Homo sapiens: one gene and its partners. The protein of the gene in region 3 interacts with the protein of the main gene of each other region in a pairwise test. Each region holds a gene or a part of one and is shown on either strand. Other genes may lie near its edges. The genes, in order: LGALS4, HCK, TOX2 and NDUFAB1.

Region 1 (8,015 bases), on a different chromosome or scaffold from region 3:
TCATGCAGCCAGAGGGTCCCTGTGTACACCCATGACGCATCATATTCCGCACCCCTGGGCACACCAGCATCCTTGAAATTACTCCCCAGGACAGGCCTGTCTCAGGGCCTTTGCACTGGCTGTTCCCTCTGCCTGGAAGGCCCTTCCCTCAGCTGTCCCTGGGGATCCCTCTCTCCGTTCCTTCTGTTCTTTGCTGATATGTTCCCTTCCCAGGCAGGCCTTCTCTGGCCACCTTTTTAATTTTTTTGAGACAGTCTCCCTTTGTCACCTAGGCTGGAGTGCAGTGATGCGATCTCAGCTCACTGCAAACTCTGCCTTCAGGATTCAAGTGATTCTCCCACATCAGGCTCTCAAGTAGCTGGGATTACAGGCACCTGTCACCATGCCTGGCTAATTTTGTATTTTCAGCAGAGATGAGATTTCGCCTTTTTTTTTTTTTTTTTTTTTTTTTTGAGATGGAGTCTCGCTCTTTCGCCCAGGCTGGAGTGCAGTGGCGCAATCTTGGCTCACTGCAAGCTCCGCCTCCTGGTTTCACGCCATTCTCCTGCCTCAGCCTCCCGAGTAGCTGGGACTACAGGCACCCGCCACCATGCCCAGCTAATTTTTTGTATTTTTAGTAGAGACGGGGTTTCACTGTGTTAGCCAGGATGGTCTCGATCTCCTGACCTCGTGATCCGCCCGTCTCTGCCTCCCAAAGTGCTGGGATTACAGACGTGAGCCACCACGCCCAGCCAGATGCGATTTTGCCATTTTGGCCAGGCTAGTCTCGAGCTCCTGACCTCAGGTGATCTGCCTGGCTTAGCCACCCAAAGTGCTGGGATTACAGGCGTAAGCCACCATGCCCGGCCAGGCCACCCTATTTAAGGGGACAATTTAAAGGGAACCTCTGTCCGCACATACACTCCCCATCTCCCTTCCCTCCTCATTTTCTTCATAGCACTTAATATCATCTGACATCTTACATATTTGACTTTTTTTTTTTTTTTTTTTGAGACAGAGTCTCACTCTTGTTGCCCAGGCTGTAGTGCAATGGCACGATCTCGGCTCACCGAAACCTCCACTTCCCAGGTTCAAGTGATTCTCCTGCCTCAGCCTCCTGAGTAGCTGGGATTACAGGCATGCGCCACCACGCCCTGGTAATTTTGTATTTTTAGTAGAGACAGGGTTTCTCCATTTTGGTCAGGCTGGTCTTGAACTCCCGATCTCAGGTGATCTGCCTGCCTAGGCCTCCTAAAGTGCTGGGATTACAGGCCTGAGCTACCGCGCCCGGCCTGGACTTATTTTTTATGTTTCCCCTACTAGGACATCAGCTCCACGAGGGCAGGGGTCTCTGTCCTGTTCACTCCTCCATCCCTAGTGCCAGGACACAGAATAGGCACTCAGTGAAGAAGTAAACAATAAATAAATAAACAACAGGCTGGGCAGAGTGGCTCATACCAGTGCCTGATCCTCCCAGCACTTTAGGAGGCCGAGGCTAGAGGATCGCTTGAGCACAGGAGTTCAAGACCAGCCTGGGCAACATAACAAGACTTTGTCTCTACAAAACAAATAATAATAATAAATAAAAATTAAAAATTAAATTAGTTGGGCATGGTGGCACATGTCTGTAGTCCCATCTGCTTGGAAAGATGAGGTAGGAGGATCACTTTAGCCCAGGAGTTGGAGGCCGAAGTGAGCTATAATATTGTGCCACTGCACTCCAGCTTGGGCAACAGAGCAAGACCCTATCTCTAAGGAAAAAAAAAGTCCTATGAGGCCAATCATTATCAACGTGTTAAGGCCCTTTTTAAAAAGCTAAGACTGGGCCAGGCGCAGTGGCTCACGCCTGTAATCCCAGCACTTTGGGAGGCCGAGATGGGAGGATCACTTGAGGTCAGGAGTTCGAGACCAGCCTGACCAACATGGTGAAACCCCATCTCTACTAAAAATACAAAAATTAGCCAGTGTGCTGGCACATGCCTGTAATCCCAGCTACTCAAGAGGCTGAGGCAGGAGAATCGCTTGAACCTGGGAGACAGAGGTTGCAGTGAGCCAAGATCATGCCATTGCACTCCAGCCTGGGCGACAAGAGCAAAACTCCATCTCAAAACAAAAAAAAAAACAAAAAAAACAAAAACAGAAAAGAAAAGAAAATGAAGCACAGAGAGGTATAGTCACTTTCACTCTTTCACCAACACAGAGCTGGGGAGTGGCAGAGCTGGGATTTTAACTCGGGGACCCGGCTCTGAGCCTGTGATCTGAATTCCTGCCATTGCACCCATCAGCTTCAGTCTAATGTCCAACTCAGGGACTGCCTCTCACGGTGAGCCCTCCCTGAACCTTCTGGCCCCCACGTCCCCACTCCTGATCTGCCCCAGATTCATCTCTGGCTATTGGGTGGGGCAGAAAAAGAGTCCCCTCTCCACCAGGGTGGGGTAAGGGCAGAAAGCCCCCAACAGCCAGGCCCAGAGCACCCAGTTGGAAGTCCCCTGCCAGCCCGGCCTGGCTTGGGGAGGGTCTTACCGCTTCATGTGCTCGCTGGCCACTCCTTGGATGTAAACAGACATTCCCACGTTGAGCCCGCCCGGGATGGGCTGGTAGTAAGGCAGCGTCTGGAGAAGAGGCCTGGTGAGGGGACTCACAAGCCATCTGCCTGTTGCAGCCTTTACCCCTCCCAGAAAAGCCCCCCAGTCCCTTAAGCAGGAGAGAGGAAACCATGGGGGAGGACCAGGTTGAAGATGACGAGGGCCAACAGTTAGACGTGGACACAGACAGCCTGAGGTCAGGGTAGGAGTAAATCGAGGGTCGGGGTCAGCTTTGGGTAAATCAGACCACAGAGTCAGATGGGGCCCCCCAGGATCAGAGTGGGGAAAATTGGTGTGAGGGCTTATGGACGGAGCTGCGGGCGGAGTGGGGCCTGAGCTGGCATCTCACCGGGTTGTAGGTGGGCTGGTAGCCCGGTGCGGGGACATAGGCCATCGCTCGAGGCTGCGCTAGTGGCTGGTCCTGTGAGAAGAGCTGCAGGAGTGGGAGATGGTGGCGGATGGCAGGCGGTGGTGGCTCTTATACCCAGGGTAAGGGAGTGGCTGGCAGGGGAGGGTCCACAGGGCTCCTCTTCTGGGACTCTCAGGCTGTCGGCTTCTCCTAGAGCGCACCCTAGTCTCCCTTCCCTTGCCAGCTTCCCTGGTGACCAGCCAGGACCCAAATCACCTGGGTCCCCTCCCCTACGCCCTCCTGCAAAGAGGAAGTGCTCATGAACTTCGGCCCTGCCAGGGCCTTATCAGAGCCCATAAAACCCTGCCCAGACTTCTGTTGGCAGAGGGAGGGTGAGACCAGGCAGGGCAGGGCAGGCTGCAGGAATGACCCAGGACAGGTGGGCAGCGGAGGAGGAGAACGCGGAGGAACTGCAAATTCCTGCCTCTCCCAGCAACTGTGAAGGGACCTACGTTGATTGCGTGCCCACCACACATCTTTACCACGTATGTTGTATTGTAGGGAGAGTGGTTTAGATTACTAGTGTGTGGAGCCAGAGGTTCTAGGTTCAAATCCTGCCTTTGCCACTTCTCAGCTGTATGATCATGGGTCAGTGCCTTACCCTCAATTTGCCCATGTGCTCATCTGTAAAATGGGGATATAGTAGTATCGGCTGGGTGCAGTGGCTCATGCCTGTAATCCCAGCACTTTGACTGGCCGAGGTGGATGGATCACCTGAGGGCAGGAGTTCGAGACCAGCCTGGCAAAATCCCAGTCTCTACTAAAAATACAAAAATTAGCCAGGCATGGTGGTGGGTGCCTATAATCCCATCTACTTGGAGGCTGAGGCAGGAGAATCACTTGAACCTGAGTGGAGGAGAGTGCAGTGAGCCAAGGTCACGCCACTGCACTCCAGCTTGGATGACAGATGGAGACTCTGTTTCAAAAAAAAAAAAAAAAAAAAAGGAATTCATAAGAGAGGAAACAAGTATTGAATAGCTATCAAAATATTTTAAAAATGAATTTGTGATCCAGTAATGCCTGTATGTTATTAATCTGCCAAATAAGTTCTAGCTGTGGGTCCAACTGCCACTCAGAAAAATAAATAAATAAAGAAAAGAGTAGTATCAACCTTAGGCTGGGTGTGGTGGCTTGTGCCTACAATCCCAGCAATTTGGGAAGCTGAAGCAGGAGGACTGCTTGAGCCCAGGAGTTCAAGACCAGCCTGGGCAACATAGTGAGACCCCCATCTCTACAAAAATAAAATAAAAATTAGCTGGGCATGGTAGCACACATCTGTATTCCTAGCTACTCAGAGGCTGAGGCAGGAGGATCGCTTGAACCCAGGAGTTAAGGTTACAGTGAGCTATGATCATGCCACTGCACTCCAGCCTGGGTGACAGACTAAGAGTCCGTCTCTAAAAATAGCAACAATAATAGTCATAATAATAATAATCATAATAGTATCAACTTCATAGAGTCCTTGATCATTAAGATAATAAATGCTCAGAACAGGACATAGCATATAGAAGTCATTAACTTAATGCTTGGTCTCTTGCAGTCATTCCAAACATAAATCCGGAAGATTGGGATGATATATGGATAAAAAATCCCAAAGTTTTGTTTGCTCATTTTTGAGACAGAGTCTTGCTCTATCACCCAGGCTGCAGTGCAGTGGCACCATCTCAGCTCACTGCAACCTCCACCTCCCAGGTTCAAGGGATTCTCCTGCCTCAGCCTTCTGAATAGCTGGGATTACAGGCTTACTCCACGCCTGGCTAATTTTTGTATTTTTAGTAGAGACCAGGTTTTGCCATGTTGGCCAGGCTGGTCTCAAACTCCTGACCTCAAGTGATCCACCTGCCTCAACCTCCCAAAGTGCTGGAATTACAGGCATGAGCCACTGCACCCGGCCAGAAACCCCAAAGTCCTTTTTTGTTTTGTTTTTTCTTTTTTTGAGACAGAGTCTCACTCTGTCACCCAGGCTGGACTGCAGCAGCATGATCTCAGCTCACTGCAAACTCACCTCCTGGGTTCAAGGATTCTCCTGCCTCAGCCTCCCGAGTAGCTGGGACTAGAGGCACCTGCCACCACACCTAGCTAATTTTTGTATTTTTAGTAGAGACTGGGTTTCAACATGTTGACTAGGCTGGTTGCAAACTCCTGAGCTCAGGCAATCCACCTGCGTCAGCCTCCAAAAGTGCTGGGATTACAGGTGTGAGACGCCAGCATCAGATCCCATGTGCTGTGCAGTGAGAGGTGCCAGGCAGGGCACGAACGCCACCCTCAACCCCAGGGCAGGCAGGGAGACCAGGAAGCCTTGCAACCCAGAGGGACCCCAGCGACTTTTGCTCACTCCCTCCGCCCCGGAATTCCTTGTGCCCCTCGCCTGCCCGCTGCCAGTCTGAATGGCCATCACCTCCATGCCACCCATTCCCATGCATCCAACCTCTAGCCCCAGCCTTCAGGACTGCAGTCTCTGGAGCCCCTAGGTGCATCCCAGCCCCTCCCACCTCTCCTCTATCCAAGAAGGGCACCAGGTTCTTTACTTTGCTTTATTGTTTGTGGGGTGAAGATAAGGCCTTGGGCTTGAGAAACTCATTGTCATAAAGTTATAAACTGGGAAACTGGGTCAGAAGGCATAGAAACAACTGTCATCGCCCATCCTCCCTTTCTGTGGATGAGGCGGGACAAGGCCGGCCCCCTGGCTGGGGCCTGGGACGCGAGGGCTCTCAGAGCTTGGAGAAGGTGACGGTTTTCAGTTCCTTGTTCTCAGTCGTGGCCTGGACCGACTTCACGAGGTCTTGGGTCTGCAGCATGCTCATGTTCCAGGACGCCTGGTACCGAGGGTGTTGAGAGAGAACGAGGAGAGAGATTAGCAGGGGCCAATCAGGATAAAGCATGAGAGCACCCTGCACCCTGGTTGGTCGCCTGGGGTTAGAGGAGGGCTGTGATTGGTCGGAGCGTGCACCTTACCACGTAGTTGAGGCTCTCGGCCACCGAATGGTCGCGGGAATACAGCAGGTTGACCTTGGTGCTCTGCACCGCCACGGGGCTCTTGCTGGAAATCTCGGCCGCCAGCGCTAAGGCAGCATCCAGCATGACCTCTTTGTCTGGGAACACCCGGCTGCAGTGAAAGAGATCAGGGACCGGGTGGGCTGGGAAGGGCTCTCTCCTCCAGCCTCCCGCAGATGAAGAAGTGGCCACTCACAGAGGAAGGCCCAAGACCCCAGAGAAACAGCCCAATCAGAGCAGGGGGCTGACCCCACAATAAAGAAATGAGCTCACCAAGAAAGGATGCCACTAGGAATTCTAGAGCGAGGAGACAAGGGGACCCGGAGAGGCCTCCAACCCTCCAGGCCTGGCTGCCCCCAGCACTGAGCTACCACGGCCATGGCCCTACCTGACCAGCCCACTGCCCAGGGCCTCGTCAGCCATCATCTTGCGGGCGGTGAAGGCCAGCTCGTTGACCAGGCTGCAAAGGCAAGCGTGCATCAGGAGGCGGCTGCCACCCCGGGGCTGGGAGATGCTCTGGGGTCTCCTGCCCACACCCCCACACCCCCTGCACCCACCTCTGGTTCCCGATGACCTTGGGCAGGCGCTGCAGTGTTCCTACATCGGCAGCCAAACCCACGTCCACCTCCTGGGGGAGGAATCGGGTCAGTGTTTGGTTTCTGCCCAATACTGTGCCCCTCGCAATGTCAACGTCCATGAAATTTCATGTCTACTGGAGAGTCCCGCCCCACCTTCACCCCAGTGACTTCCTCCAAAGTCCCATTCCATTGCCCAGGCAGCTTCTTGACTCAGGCAAGTTCCTTCAACCTAGAATAGAGCCCACCTTCCCACTCATGCACCCTCCCATTCCCTCAGGGCAGCTCCATCTGTGAGAGAGGAACCCTCCTCACCCTACCTGAGACCCCTTTACTGCATCCCCCGGCTCCATCCTGCCTCCCACCCTCACCAGTATGGCCCCAGGAGCAATCTCTGCCTCTGACACCTGCCAGCCTCAACCCCACCTCATACCTTACCCACTCACAACTTCACCTCTTGACTTCCTCTATGGGCAAGTCTTACTTTGTCGGGTTCAACTCCGACTCTTCCATGAAGCCCTCGAGGCTCACTCCAGGCCCCCCAACCTCACCCCACTGCCCAGCTCTAAGCAGGAGCTCGGGAGGATGACTCACCTTCACCTGGAAGAAAGCATCCTGGGCACAGTACCGGATGTCACAGGCGGTGACAAGGTCCACACCTAGGAGGTAGAGGCCAGGGATGCTGAATGACCACCAGAACCAACCCTGGCTCCCGGGAGGTGGGGCTGCCTCTTGGGACACAGTCTGGCCCATGACAGAGCTGAGGCTGGATGCCAGTGGCCGCGGCATCGGAGCAGCAGCCCCACCTGGGGAGCACCCGAGCAGGAGGATAGCCGCAGACTCACCTCCGCCAATGCAGCCCCCATGGACGGCAGCAATCACGGGCTTGGGGCACTGAGAGGGAACAGGAAGAGTGGGGTCAGGGCTGGCCCAGGGGAGGCGCGTATGGAGAAAGATCCCCTCCAGACCCCTAGAGTCACCCTCTCGATGACGTTGAAGGTCTCCTGGTATCGAGTGATGATGTCACGGAGGTACCAGCTGATCCGGGCCACATCATCTCCTTTGGGCTGCAGGATGTCCGAAGCCATGTCCATCAGGTCAATACCTGGTGAGAAGGCATGATGGAGCTCATCCAGGCTCCCAGGCCCCACCCATTGACTCAACCAGGGATCAGAACCCAGGCACAGCAGGTTCGAACCCCCAAACCACCAAGGCGGAAAAAAAACAACTCACACAGGACTTGGTGAGGGATTGATTGCATGTTGGGTGGGAAGGAAATAAAAGCTAATATTTGTGGAGTCATTACTCACAGAATCCTCACAGCAACCGTACCAGCTAGGTCCTATTACTATTTGTGTTACCAATGGGTAAACTAAGGCACAGAGAGGTTAAGCACTTGCCCAAGGGGGTCACACTGGCTGGTGAGTAGTGAGTAATGAACTATTTAAATTAACTCATTAATGTTTTTAGAGA
Region 2 (5,147 bases), about 12 Mb from region 3:
AAGTGATCACCCACCTCAGTCTCCCAAAATGCTGGAACTATAGGCATGAGCCATTATGCCCGGCCAAGTAATGTTATGCAGTTTTGTTGTCTTAAGCTACCAGATATGTGGTAATTTGTTACAGGAGCAAGAGGAAACTAATATAGCCAGTAACTATTTTAGGGCAGTTAGAAAACCTCAAGCATTGAACCCCAATTTTCTTTCCTTTCCTTTCTTTCTTCTTCTTCATCTTTTTTTTTTTTTTTTAAACAGGGTCTCACTGTGTCGCTCAGGCTAGAGTGCAGTGGCACGATCATAGCTCACTGTGGCCTCGACCTCCTGGGCTCAAGCAATCCCCCGCTCCTCGGTCTCCCAAAGCACTGGTATTATAGGTGGGAGCCACAGCACCCAGTCTGAACCCCACTTGTCTTTGTATTTCTGGTCCCCGGGAGAGTCCTTCACCATTTCTGACTTGTCATACAGCAAGAAGGCAAATAGATATTCAGGAATTGGAAGGACAGGAAAACCAACGTTTTGGTAAAGACTTTGGCATTTATATCTTTTATTTAAATATTCATTTCACTATTTTGAAAGTTTCCCTTCCAAATCACAGCTGTAACTAAAATCCAACCATTCCAGGAAATAGAAATATCAACTTGGGGGCTTCCTGAGAATGTCAGATTGTGGATTGCAAGAGTCAAAAAGAGATTTTCCAGTCCAACCTACCCACTGGACAGATGAGGAAACTGTGGCTGAAGCGAGGGTGGGTGTCTGGGAGTAGGAAGGGGGTGTGGGCCCTGGCGGATGGTGCTGGAGCCACCTTGCAGCCACCACCTGGGCACCCCCTGGCCCTGCCCTGGTCCTCCCTATCATGGCTGCTGTTGGTACTGGCTCTCTGTGGCCGTGTAGAAGTCATCCAGCACACTCTGGATGTATTCGAAGGTCGGCCGCTCCTCCGGACGGTTTTTCCAGCAGCGCATCATGATGTTGTAGAGCTCCTCTGGGCAGTTCTCTGGGCGAGGCATCCGGTATCCACGCTCCAGAGCTCGGATCACTTCAGGGTTTGACATCCCTGAAAAGGAGCCGTGGAATTAGAAACGGAAGCAGTTGGGAAATGAGAGCCCAGGGGTGGCAGGCCCTGTGGCCTCCCCAGCAGGCATCACTCCCCACCTCACCTTGCAAGCTGAGCCCCTTCCACTGTGAAAGACAGACTTCCACCCTCAGCTTCACTTGCAGCTAGGACATGGGCCTGGGACCCAGTTTGGGCCAATGGGAGCTGATGGGGAGGTCTGCTGGGAAAGTGATGGAAAGGTTTTTCCTCCCGCTTAGAGGAGAGTCTTTGGAGAACGCACCCTTCATCTCTTCCTTTGAACACTGTGAGATACTTATGATACTTGGAGCTGACAACATGGAGAAGACCATCATAGAGACAGGAACCCAGAGTCCTGACAGCTGCTGAGTTGCTGAACTAACCAGTCACCAATGGAAGATTGGGAGTAATAGATTGCTTCTATTTCAGTTACTCTTTGTCTGTTATTTTGTTGCTTGCTGTGGAACACATCCTAATGGATTCAGCGTCTATTGTGTGTTGCCTGGTTTTGACTAGTGCACCCTCAAGACAAAACATTCAGGTGGCCAGATTCAATGTTAACCTATGGGTGGGACCATTTTTTTGTTCAGTTCAAGTTTCTATTAGCTATTCATAAGAATAGCCATTCAATGTCTGTGATCCCCAATTTTATATTATTAGTCTCAAACTCCAAACTCATGAACTCAAGTGCTTCCTTTACTTGGATGTCTCTATATTTAAGTCAACTCAAATTTAGCAGAGCTAAAACAGAGCTCTCCAATTTCTATCCCTAGACCATTACCCACCCTGTGGTGCAAAGCCAGGGTAATCATCCTTTATTCTCTCTCTCTCACCTCCTAAGTCAGCAAGTCAGATCTTTTCTCCTTTTGAAACGTAGCACCAGTTCATCAACGTATGCCAGTCACGAATGCCACCACCCTGTCCAGACCATCATCACCTCTGCCTGGGCCACTGCTGTGGCCTCCTCACTGGCTGCCACCCTGTTCCCTTTCCCTCCCATTCACTCTCCATGCTGAAAGCATCGCTTAAAAATGGAAATCACCAGCCCGGCAACATAGCAATACCTTGTCTCTCAAAAAATTTAAAGAATTAGCTGGGCATGGTGGTGTGTGTCTGTAATCCCAGCATTTTGGGAGGCCAAGGCTGGAGGATCGTTTGAGCCTGGAAGTTAGAGACCAGGCTGCACAACGTAGTGAGACCAAGTCTCTACAAAAAAATTAAAAAAATAAAAAATAGCCAGACATGGTGGCATGTGCCTATGGTCCCAGATACTCGGGAGGCTGAAGCGGGAGGATCATTTGAGCCTAGGAAGTCGAGGCTGCCATGAGCTATGATTACACCACTGCACTACAGCCTCAGTGACAGAGTGAGACCTTGTCTTAAAAAAAAAAAAAAAGGTGGAGAAAGGACAAGATCTGATTTAAAGTTTAGAATTATCCTTCTGGCTGCAAGTGGAGAATAGGCTGTAGGACGAGGAGGGAGAAAGCAGTAAGACTGATGAGGATGCCGCTGCACCATCTATGGGAGATGACGCTGGCCTGGATGCAGTGGAGACTGTGGGGTTCAAAGTGGTGAGACTTGGGATATGTTTTGGAGTCGAGTGGCCAAAACCCTGTGACTGCTCAGATGTCATAGGGGTGAGGCCAGGCACAGTGGCTCACGCCTGTAATCCCAGCACTTTGGGAGGCCGAGGCAGGCGCATCACCTAAGGTCAGCAGTTCGAGACCAGCCTGGCCAACATGGTGAAACCCCGTCTCTACTAAAAATACAAAAATTAGCCAGGCATGGTGGTGGATGCTTGTAATCCCAGTTACTCAGGAGGCTGAGGCAGGAGAATCGCTTGAACCTGGGAGGCGGAGGTTGCAGTGAGCCGAGATCACGTCACTGCACTCCAGCCTGGGTGACAGAGGGAGACTCCGTCTCAAAAAAAAAAAAAAAAAAAAAAAAAGTCATAGGAGTGAGAGAGAAGGAAGGGCCAAGGAAGCCCCCAGATTTCAGGCTTAAGACATTAGATGGATGGAGGTGCCTTTAACTAAGACAGGAAAGGTGAGGGAAGGTTGGGGGTGAGGATCAAGAACTCAGTTTGAATGGACATGTTGTTGAGATGAGCCCATTGCCAGACTGGGCCCTGGTAGCAGCCCTGAGCTGATGCCCCTTCCCTACCTGGGTAAGGGATCCGGCCGTAGGTGACGATCTCCATCAGCAGGATACCAAAGGACCAGACGTCTGACTTGATGGTGAAGGAGCCAAAGTTGATGGCTTCAGGAGCTGTCCACTTGATGGGGAACTTGGCCCCTGCAGGGTTGAACAGAGCAGAGTCGGGGAAGGCTGGGGAGTAGTGAGGGTTGGCTCTGCTAAGGTGGGGGAACAGGCAAGGGCAAGAGCTGCCAACATCTGCCCCTGCAGACCTGCAATTTCCCTGATACGTGGCCTCCCTGTGGAAGCAAGGGACATCCATCCTGAGGACAGATGGCTAAACAAGGAGGAGTGGGCTTAGGGGCCTGGGGTATGGTGTGGAAGTTCACTCTAGAATCCTCCTCGTTGATTCAGCTGATACCCCAGTTAACTGCAACTCCGAAGAGTGGAATCCCAGAGGTCACAGGTCTTTGGGGACAGAAGGACTTCAGGGGGCCTTGAGTCCAGGTTGCAGCTGATGCCTCAGTCCTCTCATCCTGGGCGATGGGAAAAGGGAGGATTCTGGCTCTCAGCCCATGAGGTTCCCACCAGTCACTATGTGTCTCTCCCTTTACCCGCCCTTCCTCCCACCTAGTCTGACATGGGTTTAGTTAGCCTTTTCATTTTTTTTTTCTTTTAGAGACAGAGTGCCCAGGCTGGAGCGCAGTGGCACAATCATAGTTCACTGAAGCCTCGAACTCCTGACCTCAAGCTATCCTCCTGCCTCAGCCTCTCAAGCCCCTGGGGTTACAGGTGTGCCCCATTATGCCAAGCTAATTAAAAAAATTTTTTTGGCCAGGTATGGTGGCTTGTGCCTGTAATCCCAGCACTTTGGGAGACCAAGGAGGAGGATCACCTGAGGTCAGGAATTCGAGACCAGCCTGGCCAACTCCATCTCTACTAAAAATACAAAATTAGCTGGGCATGGTGGCAGGTGCCTGTAGTTCCAGCTACAGGCTGAGACAGGAGAATCACTTGAACCCAGGGGATGGAGGTTGCAGTGAACCGAGATCACACCACTGCACTCCAGCCTGGATGATAGAGTCAGACTCCGTCTCAAAAATAAAATAAAATAAAATAAAATAAAATATAAAAAAATAGAAAAATTTGTAGAGACAGTGTTTTATTATGTTACCCAGCCTGTTCTCAAAACTCCTGGGCTCAAGTGATCCTCCCATCTTGGCCTCCTAAAGCACTGGGATTATAGGTGTGAGCCACCGCACCTGGCATAGTTATCCTTTTTTAAAAAGTGTTTAGTTTAATTATATCATGGTTGGTGAACATGGTCTATAGAATATATGTTCTTTGGAATTTGTTGAGACCTGCTTTATGACTGAGTACATGGTCAAGTTTTGAAAATGTTCTATGTGTGTGTTTGTGTGTGTGAGAGTGTGTGTGTGTGTATATGTTTTCTCCCTTCCTCCTTTGGATCTACAGACTTTTCTTGATTTCCTGCTTATCTTCTTCTGGTTTAGAAATTATACATTCTACTTTTATTCCTTTAGTCATTACATTTATTTATTTATTTATTTATTTATGTTTTGAGACAGGGTCTCGCTCTGTTTGCCCAGGCTGGAGTGCAGTGGTGTCATCTCAGCTCACTGCAAGTTCCGCCTCCCGGCTTTCACGCCATTCTCCTGCCTCAGTCTCCCAAGTAGCTGGGACTACAGGTGCCCGCCACCACGCCTGGCTAATTTTTTGTATTTTTAGTAGAGATGGGGTTTCACCGTGTTAGCCAGGATGGTCTCGATCTCCTGACCTCGTGATCCTCCCACCTCAGCCTCCCAAAGTGCTGGAATTACAGGCATGAGCCAACGTGCCCGGCCCTATTTATTTACTTTTTTGAGACAAAGTCTTGCTCTGTTACACAGGCTGGAGTGCAGTGACATGATCTTGGCTCACT
Region 3 (5,297 bases):
GGCAATTGGTATTTTTCCAGATGTAGTTAAAACAGTCAACTATTATTTGCCTTTTGTTGTTGTTTGCTGTCGTTGTTAGTATCACCATCTAACATCTGCTGGGAAATCTGGTTTAAAGAATTCCCTGTCTGGGATGCTTCCTACACTCAGGTTTGAAAAACCCCTTGGCCTCCTCCCTGGATTCCCACTGCTCACCTCCACAAGCCTGGGTGGCCCCATCCTCCAGAGGAAGGGCTCGCCACTGTCACCAGCTGATGCAAGTTCCTGTGTGGCGGCGTTCTTGCCCACACCCCTTCTCATCGTCGCAAGAGCCCTACGGGTCTGACCACTGTTACCCCCTTAGAGGGCAAGACTGAGGTCAGAGTGGTCCCATCACCCACACACAAACCCACATGGGCTGGTAAAGGTCAGGCAAGACTTTGACCCGTGTCCGTCTGGCCCGAGGGGCTCTATGCCACTTTAGGGGGTTCAACCCTGGCTCACCAAGGGCAAGGAGACACAGACTTGTTTTCAGCTTTTCAGAAGTTTTATTATAAAGAGATTTGAGAGAAGCACTGGGCACCAAGACAGACACTCGCCAGGGCCAGGAAACAGCTGCAAACGACGTCAAGAACCCAAACCCAAACGAAACCCCAAAACCACACACACGGTAGGATAAGCTGTAACTTCGTTCTCAAGGTTTCTTCATAAATAGACAAAAGTCGTCGCCGGCAATTTAAAATAGATGAATACATGATTAAAAGGAGAGCAGTGCTCCGGGGTGGCTAGCAAGCGTCCGGTCCTTGCTGTGAGGATGACGAAACGGTTTGGCAGCCGCTTTTGTGCGCGTCTCCCTTAAGATAAAACTTAAAAATGTGCTAAGGATCATATAAAATGCTTTTTACCTTAAAGGAAACTACTTTTTTCCCCCACAAAATAGTCTTACAGATGTCTTCAGCACAGTTCTAAAACACGTAGTCAACTACTTACACGGAACCAACAGTTTCTAGGTTTCGTAATCTTTTGTTCACACTGGAAAACCGATGTGCACATCTATGCCGGGGGCCGGCCCTCTGGCCCATGCATCTGGGGTGGGTGTCCGTTGGTAAGCGACCCCGCCAGGGGCGGCCCACCTGGGCTGGGGCTGGAGCTGGGGCCGGGTGTCCAGACATAGGGTACCGTGCGCAGGGCGAGGACAGGGTCCACAGTTACCCTGGAGCAAGCAGGTCAGCGGGCGGAAGGTTCCTGCAGGTTCTTTGGGCTGGTGGTGGGCAGTGGGCTGCCTCTGCAGAGTCTGGTGGGAGGTTGAGGAAGAGACTCAGCCCCCGGGCAATGGGTGTGTCACTGCTCTCTCCGATGGGCCACCCTGCCTCTGGCCAGGGCCTCTTTTCTGCTGTCAGCCCTTCAGGCTCTGAGCAGTGCCTTCCAGCGAGCCTCAGGGATGGTAGGGAGGCGGGATTAGGTGAGGTAGAGCGATTTGTCCCTGGGGAGCAGGCTGTGAGAGAGAGGAGGGGCTGTCAAAGCTGTTGGGTACCTCTCCGGGCCAGGGGAGCACCAGGACCCCTGCACTGTACGCCCCACCCCCACCCCTGGATTCAGCTGCCCCTCTGTGGCTGAATGAGGGACTTGCATCTGCAAGTCCCACCCCCACCCACCTCTACACCAAGCAGAACCAAACCCCTCCCGGAAACCCAGCAGGGGACCACCCGGTCCTCAGCTCTGGGTGAAAGGGCAGTAGCGTGTCTGTCTTTCATCGAGGCGCACGCCGATGTCACCATTGCTCTCACATGGGTTTTTAATCACAGGAATTTGTAAATCTCAAACTGAATTAAGGGAGGACAGGTGCTTTTTATGTTTTTAAAATACGGCCCTGCTGGGGTCTGACCTCCATGCTGGATGTGATGGGCAAGCCTCAGGAGGCTTGGACATTGTGTGACACTCCCCTACATACCCTAAGTATTCTGACTTTTGAGAAGGAAACTTAGGGACAGGAAAGGGCTGGGGTAGGAGGGTCTGCACCTGCTTGGGGTGCAGGGAAGGGATTCTTGCTGAGCTGAGTCCACCCACCCATGTAGAATCTCACTTCAGGCATGTCAGAAATGGGGCATGCGCGCTGGTCACTTGTTCAGTGTCCAAGGGCGCTGGTGGGTCAGCAGAGGAACCAGCCGTGTGCTGGGAGGCCGAGGCTAGGGCTGGGGGCAGCGTTTCTCAGCAGCAAGGTGGCCACCCGACAAGTGCGCTGTGCCTTCCAGGTTGTGGCGCTATCGCTGGGACAGCTGCTTGGCACTACGTCCCCCAGGTGTGGCTGCGGGACTCATTTTTGCCAAGGGAATGGGAACCTGGCTGGCGGGTTAAGGAGCAAGTGTCCCTCCTCACTGCACTCTCCCTCTCCTGCTGGCTGCGGTTGTTGAAAGGTCACTCTTCCCCAGAGTTGGGGTGGCGTGGATCCAGGAAGACTTTCTAGAGGGAGGTGTTAGCATGGGTTTGAAAGGTGGAGTGCAGGATAGGAACAGAGGCCTGAGACAGGAGGCCCACAGGAGGACTAGGGAGGACACTGGGGTGCAGGGAGAAGGGGTCTCTAAGGTGTCTGTAATTCCTTGGGATAGACAGTGGGTCCCTTCTCCCACCGTGTCCCACCGAGGTCCCCTGTCCTGCATTCTTAGCTGTTCTAGTCTTGGGAGCTGCCCTGCCCAGTGGGCTACACTCACCCCGGGGCAGCCCACAGCCAAGGGCTGACTGATGAAGGGTTCAAAAAGCCAGTTCCCTGACCTCCAGGTGGGAGCCACTCTAGCACCGTTCATGCTCCAGGGCTCCCATGGGATGAGGCAGAAGCAAGTCTTCAGCTGAGGCCACATCCCCCCTCAGCTCCTTCCCCCACCCTGTCCTGCCTCCCTCACCCCCTTCTCCTGCAAGCTTTCCCCAGTGCATCCCCAAAGGCACCCAATCCCTGCTGCCTCAGGCTCTGCTTCTAGGGAACTGGCCTAAGATGCAGGACTCATCTGTGAATGTCACGTGGAAGCACTTGTGAAAAAAACAGGAGCAAGGAAGAAGCAGCAAGACTGAAGACTAGTCAGTTTCCCAAGCAGGCCTCAGCATCAGGCCAGCAGAGTCCTTCCGGGGCCTGGCTCTGCGGTGTCATCTGAGATATCGATCCCCTCAGCAGGGCTGACAGTGACTGCAGGGTCCTCCCCTGTCCACGTTGCCCTTGGCCATTCTCCCATCCCTGGCCATCCTGTTCCCACTCTCCCTGGCTGGCAGGACAAAGGCAGGGACGGGCGAGGACTAACCTGCAGGTGCTGATGCCACACTCCCCACTGGGGTAGCTGCTGTCCCAGTCCCCGCTGCTGGTGGGGTTGGATGGGCCAGGTGAGCAGGATCCCGAGCTGCTGGGGAACTCAGAGATGTGCGGGAAGTCCTACAGAGTGGGAAGGAGGAGGCCATGAGCCAAGGAGAGATGAGGGGGCAGACTGTCCCAGGCCTCCCGGGGTGAGAGCCCATGTGTCCAAGGGTGTCCACACCAAAGAGATGCTGCCTCCAGGGCTGCTGCCTTGCTCCCAGTAGAGCACCTTTCAAAATGTTCAACCCTTGTCTTGGCTGAATCAGGGGCTGAAGGACTTGGCTTTCAGGGCCTTTCCCTTTCTGGGCCTCAGTTTCTCGATCTGTAAAATGGAATTACTGAACCCAATGACCTCTAAGGGCCATGTGAACCTCGTAGCAATCTCTGTGGAACAATTAGCGGGGGTAAGGTCTCGAAGGCTTTGGGAAGGGCCAGGGCTAGGGCTGAGGATGCAGGAAGGGGGGACTGGAGTATCCTAAGAGTCAGTCTGGCAACTCGTGAACTGTTCACTGCAGCCAGCACATCTCAGGTAAGGTGTGCGAGACCCACTTCCTAGATGTGGTAACTGAGGCTCAGAGAGGTCAGGTGCCAAGGCTGAGGTTATATCACTGGTGAGTGGCAGGGCCAGGGTTTGAAAGGGCAAAGCCGCTTCCCCTCCCCACACGGTCACAGAAGGGCTGTTCTGCTCTTCCCTGCTTACCTGTGGCCCTGGAGGTGAGGGGCTCATCGCCAGCTGCACCTGGAGTGCCATGGGGGTGGGCAGGACAGGGGGCTGGGGGGCTGGGGACATGCTAACAGGTGGACTGAGGAGGGCGCCCTGGGCGTGAGGGGGCAGTGACAGCTGCTGGTGCAGTGTGGGGCTGAGCGGGAAGGAGGGTGGCGGCGGCGGGGACGCACTGAGGCCTGGCAGCAGAGACTTGGAGCCCAGCGTCCGGGCGAGGCTGGCAGGGGAGGCCCCACTGCGGAAGGCCTGCAGGTCCGACGGCGTCAGGAAGGAGGCCAGGCCTGGCATGGCATACATGGGCTGCTTGGGTGGGAGCATTTTGGCTGGTGGGTTTGCCTGAGTGCTCTTGGTCTCACCTTGATCTGGGGAGCTCTGGAAGGAGACAGATATCAGTCACTGGAGAACAGAAGAGGGATGAGCCAGAACATGGGCTGTGAGGCCAGGAGGCTCTGCAACCCACTGACACGGCTGCTGGCTGGCTGTCTTGGGAGAGAGCTTGGACTAACCAGAGATAGCACAGGGTCCTTAGTCCCCTTGGCTCTGACCATCCAGTCACCTACTGCTTTTATCTTTGGGGGGCTCCCCTGCCCTTGGGGGAATCCATGCTCCTCAGCCTGGCCAGTGAGACAAGCACCATCCCACTGAGCCAGCTCTAATCATGCTCCTTCCAACCTCTGTGCCTTTGTAGATGTTTTTCCCTTGACTTTGAACCACCTTTTACTTGGCCTGTTATAGACCAGTTTGGATGCCATCTCTTCTGTACCAGGAACAACACCCACCTCCACTTGGGCCACGCATCCGCAGCCACACTTAGCTTCCTACGTTGCTGGTGTTGACAGAGGAGGCCGACGGTGTGGTGAGGAGGTGCCATATTTTGGGGTAGCGTGTCCCAAGCCCCATCAGCGGTCAGAAGTGAAGGCCACATAAAACTGGCAAAACTGGGTTTGAATCCTAGTGCGGCCACTTTAACAAACTGGATCTTTTCAGGCAAGTTGCTCAACCCCTCTGGGTGCTGGGTTCTTGTTGGAAGAAGCCAATGAAATGCATGTAAAGTGCCCAGAATGAGCCTGGCATGCTGTAGGTGCCCTGCAGACATGACCATGTAGGTCTGAGCCATTCTTTCTAAGACCTGGGGTGCCGGCCCTTCCCACGGGCCCCAGTTCTTGCTCCATTCCTCAAGTGGCCCCACTCTGATCAGGGCTGTGCCTGGAGATTCCGGGTGTTACCTTGGAGACGAGGCTAGCCCGGTAGGCTGCC
Region 4 (7,032 bases), on a different chromosome or scaffold from region 3:
CCCAAATCAAAAAAAAAACTGCCTTACCTACACAACAGATTCAATTTTTTTTCGTTGTTAGATGGAGTTTCACCCTGTCATCCAGGCTGCAGTGTGCAGTGGCATGATCTCGGCTCACTGCACCCTCTCCCTCCCGGGTTCAAGCAATTCTCTGCCTCATCCTCCCGAGTGGCTGGGATTACAGGTGTCTGCCACCACGCCTGTCTAATTTGTGTATTTTTAGTAGAGATGGGGTTTCACCATCTTGGCCAGGCTGCTCTTCATTTCCTGACCTCATGATCCACTCGCCTCGGCCTCCCAAAGTGCTGGGATTACAGGCGTGAGCTACCACGCCCGGCCCCACTTGTGTTTTTATTATTTATTATTATTTTTGAGATGGAGTTTCACTCTTGTTGCCTAGGCTGGACTGCAATCACGCTATCTCGGCTCACTGCAACCTCCACCTCCCGGGTTCAAGTGATTCTGCTGCCTCAGCCTCCCGAGTAGCTGGGATTACAGGTATGTGCCACCATGCCCGGCTAATTTTGTATTTTTAGTAGAGATGAAGTTTCTACATGTTAGTCAGGCTGGTCTTGAATTCCCGACCTCAGGTGATCCGCCCGCCTCGGCCTCCCAAAGTGCTGGGATTACAGGCATGAGCCACAGTGCCCGGCCAGTTGTGTTTTTTAAAAAGGGTGAGAGATACATACATATAATATACACACGTGTGTATACTTCTTTAACATATGCATTGAGTACCTTTGGAAACATACATGAAACTGGTAGCGCTGGCTATCTCCCAGAATGGGCCTGGGTGTCTGGGAGCCAGGGAGATTTTTACTGAGTATCTTTCCCTTTGCATTTTCTAGCATGTAATTAAATACTCTATATTTAAAGAAAAAAATTCAAACCACCATCAGTTACCTTCTCTGGGTCAATCTTGTCATAGAGTTTCAATACGTAAAGAACACGGTCCTGGATGCCCTCTAACGTCAAAGGAGGCATGTCGCTATACTGGCGGCACAACTGTGTAACTCTACCAGGAACCTAGAGCGACGGCAGGAAGGAAACACTGTCATTGAATGGAAAATACCTCTAAATCAATGCACAAGCCTATAGGTAACTTTCACAGAACTTTCGGGGCTTTAGAGAACCCACAGCATCTGATTCTCATTGTGGCCACCAGGACACACTAAGTTGCAGGACTGGGTAATCGCAGAAGCCCCAACAGTTCAGCAGCATCTCAGGCCTCCTTCCTGGGAGTCAGGACCGGCCCCTCTGCCTCCTGGCTTCAACCCTCAGGCTCTGGACATTCATACTGCTCTGCGACACTAACTGCCACTAAAATTGTCTAGCGTCTGCAGAATGCCTGTGTCTTCTCATGGCATCTTCAGCATCCCGAGGCCTCTACAGGGTGCTGCCACCTTTAATAGGCTGACCCAAGTCAAAATAACCCAAAAGGAAAGAGCTGTCATGGTAAACCCAAAGGCAATTCAAATTGAGGACCATACACCAGAAAGGTCTAGTTTGGTTCCAGCAGTTATCTCCCTGATCTCAGCCAGGACAAAGGAAGCTGGCCTCCCACCCAAAGAGGGGATGAGGGAGCTTACAGTCACTACATTCCAATCTGTTTCCCTTCCAGCGAGGCTTGCCTCATGGCCACCAGCCAAACCATGAGCCCTTCTGGCCTGTGCCATGTTAGAGCAATACCTCACGTATCTCTGGTATTAGTCGGCTCAATGTTTAGGTATTAGGGTATTGACCAGATTTCATTCAACAAATGTGGAATGAGCTGCAATTACAGGTCAGGGGGTTTAATGCTGTGGAAGGTACGACGCAGAATCAGAGAAAACAAAACAGGGTATCTGGCAGTTTTGCTCACTACTGAAATCCCTAATCTGGCTAGTCGTGGTGGCTCACGCCTATAATCACAACACTTTGGGAGGCCACGGTGAGCAGATCACCTGAGGTCAGGAGTTCGAGACCAGCCTGGCCAACATGGTGAAACCCCGTCTCTACTAAAAATACAAAAATTAGCCAGGCGTGGTGGTGGGCGCCTGTAATCCCAGCTACTCAGGAGACTGAGGAAGGAGAATCGCTTGAATGTGGGAGGAGAGGTTGCAGTGAGCCGAGCCTGCGCCATTGCATTCCAGCCTGGGCGACAAAGCAAGACTCCGTCTCAAAAAAAAGAAAAAGAAAGAAATCCCTAATCTAAATTGGTTTGTTTACCTCCTGAAGTTGATTTTAAGTCCGAGGCTTGGCGTTCTTCAGGCATTTCCCTATAGAAAGTGGGGCTGCTTGTTAGGGCTCAGGTCCCTGAAACTCACAAAGGTCCATGAAAAATCATAATAAATACTGCCCAGAGAACCAAACCAGTATAACCTCTGTAGAAGAAACATTCATCTTGCATAAAGAACAGGTATTGGGCCGATGTGTGTCTCACACCTGTAATCCCAGCACTTTGGGAGGCCGAGGTGAGCCAATCACTTGAGGCCAGGAGTTCGAGACCAGCCTGGCCAACATGGTGAAGCCTCGTCTCTACTAAAAATACAAAAATTAGCTGGGCGTGGTGGTGTGTGCCTGTAATCCCAGCTATTCAGGTAGCTGAGGCATGAGAATTGCTTGAACCCAGACAGAGGTTGCAGTGAGCCGAGACTGTGCCACTGCACTCCACCTTGGGCCACAGAGCGAGACTCTGTCTCAAAAAAGAAAAGAAAAAGAAGTCAGTTATTAAAATCAGGTTTAGGCTGGGCGCAGTGGCTCACACCTGTAATTGCCACACTTTGGGAAGCCGAAGCAGGCGGATCACGAGGTCAGGAGTTCGACACTAGCCTGACCAACATGGAGAAACCCCGTCTCTACCAAAAATATAAGTTAGCTGGGCGTGGTAACATGTGCCTGTAATCCCATCTACTCAGGAGGCTGAAGCAGAAGAATCGCTTGAACTTGGGAGTCGGAGGTTGCAGTGAGCCAAGATCATGCCATTTACACTCCAGCATGGGTGACAGAGTGAGATTCCGTCTCAAGAAAAAAAAAAAAAAAATCAGGTTTAATCAGCAAACTAAAGAGATGAGTTGGAGAGTATGATAGATATTCTAACGAGCCTTTCTGAGTACTTTCAAGAGTTTTAGAGCATGTTTCTTTGTCTAAATGTCTAGTCTCCTTTCGTATTATACATGGGTTAAGGAGACCTTTTATACAGGCACATGACCGGCCTACTTAACAATGACTCAAATAGGTTTCCAAGTCACAAATAAAATGGAGAAGAAAGGAATAAAGAGAAAGGGGGAGAAGAAATGAGGTAATATGGCAATGGCAGAAAAGAAATTTCAGTTGGAGGGATCTAACAGAGGCTGTGTGCTTATCAAGAAATGGTACGAGGCCAGGTGTGGTGGCTCACGCCTGTAATCCCAGCACTTTGGGAGGCCAAGGTGGGCGGATCTCTTGAGGTCAGGAGTTTAAGACCAGCCTGCCCAACACAGTGAAACCTCCATCTCTACTGAAAGTCCAAAAATTAGCCGGGCATCGTGGCGTGTGCCTATAATCCCAGCTAATCAGGAGGCTGAAGTGGGAGGATCACTTGAACCTAGGAGGCAGAGGTTGCAGTGAACTGAGATCATGGCTCTACACTCCAGCCTGGGCGGCAGGGTGAGACTCTGTCTCCAAAAAGAAAAAAAAAAAAAAAAAAAAAAAGAAATGGTACGATGCCAGGTGTGGTGGCTCACGCCTGTAATCCCAACACTTTGGGAGGCCAAAGTGGAAGGATCGCTTGAGCCCAGGAGTTCCAGACCAACCTGGGCAACAAAGCAAGACCCCTGGTGAGGGTATATTCTATGTTCGTACACAACTACCCATGAGGCCAACTAGGTTGTCAGCATTGTCCTCAGCAGCTCCAGCAAGTACCTACAAGGGCCAGGTGGGCACCATGTGATTAAATTAAACGAGTCTCTGACTGGAGGCCACATGCCAATCTAGAGTGGGTGCTGCATCAGGATCAGCGTGAGGCAGTAAGTTAGTGGGCAAGAGCTCAGACGCTGAAACTAGACCACCTATGCCTGCACCATGGTGCTGGCTCTCACTAGTTGTTTGGCCTTGGGTGGGTTACTTAACCTTCTACATCTCAGTTTCCTCATCTGTAAAATGGGGATAAACAACAGTACCACACTCACAGGACTGTTGTGAAGCATCAGTGAGATGAAGTAAAGGCTTGGACATTGGCTGGCACTTAACACAGTAAGTGCTATTTAGGGTTATTTAGTAGGATCCTGAGAACAATGACCAGCAGCAGCTAGTTTGATACCTTGGCTGTAGCGTAGCCCCAAAATACTTGATCCTACTACCCTCTCATGCTCCTGCCTCTGGTCTCTTTTTTTTTTTTTTTTCAGACAGAGTCTCACTGTGTTGCCCAGGCTGGAGTGCAGTGTTGTGACCTTGGCTCACCACAACTTCTGCCTCCCAGGTTCAAGTGATTCTTATGCCTCTGCCTCCCAAGTAGCTGGGATTACAGGCGTGCACCACCATGCCTGGCTAATTTCTGTATTTTTAGTGGAGATGAGGTTTTACCATGTTGGCCAGGCTGGTCCTGAACTCCTGGTCTCAAGTGATCCACTCACCTCAGCCTCTCAAAGTGCTGGGATTACATGCATAAGCCACCACGTCCCGGCCTCCATTAATTTCTTATCAGCTCAGGCTATGATATTGCACTTTACACACATCATCTTTCTTCAGCTCTCCAGTATTCTGGTGAGATCCATGATACTATCACCCTCCTTTTTACAGATGAGAAACTGAGGCAAGGGAAGGTTAGGTATCCTCCTCACCCCATGTCCTTCCAGCATGGCCTCCTGGAAGGTCTTGCTGCTCCTTCTAACTGGATCTCTGTTGATTGGGAAAAAATAAAAGGGATACAAAATGGACAAGCACCTCCCCAACAGCCAACATGTGATGTTTCTGGTGTTAGTTGTTCTTCCCCAAGATCTACACTTAACAAGTATATGGGAAATAAACCACCTCTCCCAGACATCAGAGAAGGTACTGTTTGCAGGTAAAGAGTGATGACCCTCTGGGCTAGTAATTCAAACAGATGAGGTTCCATCAGAATCCCGGTACTCCACTGGGGCTCACTTCTGCCTGAGGCAAACTCAGAGGAGGCTAAGGAGAGGGCTTTAAAGGCCGTCTCTACAAACTGCCGACTGGTCCACTCTACACAGGCAGCCCAGACCTCTCAAACTCAACAGTTTGGAAATGAACTCCTGACCTGTCTCCAAAACTCCTGCTTACAGACCTCTGTTCCTTCTCCGCCACCTGGGGCTTATTCCTTCAATAAGCCCTGTTTCATGTTCACTCCCTATGACCTTTGCAGAGAATACCCACAATTCCTCGCTGCAGCATACAGCTCCCTTCATGATATGCTCACTCTCTTCCCCCCAACAATGTTCCCTTCCAGACACCCTAAGAGTCAACCACAAGGAGGTAAGTGCCAGGCTCTTCCTGGCCTCTGCACAGGCCTTCAAGATCACGTTCACTGAGAGATTGGTCAAGTATCTCTTTTTGCTTTTGCACTACACACACCTGTTTCACAATGCCTTGCCTTTATTTACACGACTGTCTCAGAAGCCTGGGAACTTTACCTGTGTGCCAAGAACTGTGCAATGGGCTGGAAATGCAAAGATGAATAAGACACAACCTTCCCCCAAAAGAAGCTTACACTCTAATGGAAAAGACCAATCCACAGATCATTTTAGTTGAAATAAAAATATGGCAAGCACCATGACAGAAGTATCTGTAGGCTGATGCAATAACAAAAGTTGTCACTCAGTCCTTGAGTGGCCGGAAAGGAGGATGCCAGACTTGGATTTGGTGAGGAAAAGAGCTGAGACTGATAATTCAAGGAGAGGGAAGAACAGGTCAAGAAAACGAAATGAGGTCAGGCGTGGTAGCGCAGGCCAGTTATCCCAGCTAGTCAAGGGACTGAGGCAGAAGGATTGCTTGAGCCCAGGAGTTTGAAGCTGCACTGATATATGATCATGCCACTGCACTCCAGCCTAAGTGACAGAGACCTTGTCTGGAAAAAAAAAAAAAAAAAAAGTCATGAAAGTGCAGTGCCTGTGTCTATGTGAGAAGACATCAGCTCATGTTGGGAGATGGTACACAGATGACAGGCTTGGAGGCTAAGAGGGAGGGCCCAGGTCTGCAGAGCCTTAAGGGCCATGGGAAGGGACTGGGACTTTGTCTGGTCCTGGTCCCAGTCCTGGAATAGCTAGCTTTTTTTTGTACAAGTGCTGTCTTCATCTGCGTACCATGCCCCATAGAACTGCTGGAAATTATCTTTGTGCTCCATCTGCTAGACAGTGTAGATTCGGGGCCTACCTGGATCAAGTATAAGACTTCCAGGCTGCATTTTAGGCCATTGCCCTTGGTTTTTGTTTTTTTGTTTTTTCCTTACCTTCTATTTTATATCATCTGGTATTTTTATACCCAGGAAAACTGCCTTAGCTCCTTTTGGGAAAAAGGGTGTAAATGAGTGACTAGTTGCTCTGAAGTTGGCATAGTGGATGGATTTGAGGAGAGGAAATTTCACAGCAGGGAATAGGTAGCATGAGCAATGGTCCAAATGAGATGAACAAGGACTGGAGGCGGAGGTCTGGGATATACAGCAATAACAGAAACCAGGAGTGAAGAGTCCAGGGAGCATGTGTGGTAAGAGAACTCGGGAGCCCACCAACATTTAAGGGTTAGGCACACCAGGTGTGATGGCTCATGCCTGTAATCCCAGCACTTGGGAGGCTGAGGCAGGAGGATTGCTTGAGCCCAAGAGTTCACAACTAGCCTAGGCAACATAAGGAGATTCCGTCTCTAAAAAGAAGACAGACATCAAAAAATTAGGGGTGGTGGCTCATGCCTGTAGTCCCAGCTACTCAGGAAGCTGAGGCAGGAGGACCATTTGAGTCCAGGAGGTCAAGGCTGCAGTGAGCCACGATCATGCCACTGCACTCCAGCCTGAAAGGCAAAGTGTCCCAACAAGGTAGGAGGACAAACCAACCAAGGGAGAAC

The links.
Region 1: the proteins of TOX2 (region 3) and LGALS4 interact in binary tests that used the Homo sapiens proteins (3 or more experiments, as listed by UniProt).
Region 2: the proteins of TOX2 (region 3) and HCK interact in binary tests that used the Homo sapiens proteins (3 or more experiments, as listed by UniProt).
Region 4: the proteins of TOX2 (region 3) and NDUFAB1 interact in binary tests that used the Homo sapiens proteins (3 or more experiments, as listed by UniProt).

Annotation. Positions count from the first base shown.
Region 1 is NC_000019.10:38,809,929-38,817,943, forward strand, and holds the start of LGALS4 (galectin-4), read right to left. Parts: upstream 3,018-8,015; 5' UTR 2,959-3,017; coding exon 2,914-2,958; intron 2,592-2,913; coding exon 2,503-2,591; intron 1-2,502. Other genes in the region: ECH1 (delta(3,5)-Delta(2,4)-dienoyl-CoA isomerase, mitochondrial precursor), read right to left, coding at 5,685-5,789, 5,929-6,079, 6,356-6,427, 6,525-6,595, 7,137-7,201, 7,388-7,436, 7,523-7,647. UniProt on the Homo sapiens protein: Galectin that binds lactose and a related range of sugars. May be involved in the assembly of adherens junctions.
Region 2 is NC_000020.11:32,097,221-32,102,367, reverse strand, and holds the end of HCK (tyrosine-protein kinase HCK), read right to left. Parts: intron 3,365-5,147; coding exon 3,233-3,364; intron 1,052-3,232; coding exon 849-1,051; 3' UTR 512-848; downstream 1-511. UniProt on the Homo sapiens protein: Non-receptor tyrosine-protein kinase found in hematopoietic cells that transmits signals from cell surface receptors and plays an important role in the regulation of innate immune responses, including neutrophil, monocyte, macrophage and mast cell functions, phagocytosis, cell survival and proliferation, cell adhesion and migration.
Region 3 is NC_000020.11:44,064,827-44,070,123, reverse strand, and holds the end of TOX2 (TOX high mobility group box family member 2), read right to left. Parts: coding exon 5,267-5,297; intron 4,413-5,266; coding exon 4,017-4,412; intron 3,395-4,016; coding exon 3,267-3,394; intron 1,475-3,266; coding exon 1,438-1,474; 3' UTR 508-1,437; downstream 1-507. UniProt on the Homo sapiens protein: Putative transcriptional activator involved in the hypothalamo-pituitary-gonadal system.
Region 4 is NC_000016.10:23,586,294-23,593,325, forward strand, and holds part of NDUFAB1 (acyl carrier protein, mitochondrial precursor), read right to left. Parts: intron 4,858-7,032; coding exon of another isoform or gene 4,800-4,857; intron 1,027-4,799; coding exon 904-1,026; intron 1-903. UniProt on the Homo sapiens protein: Carrier of the growing fatty acid chain in fatty acid biosynthesis.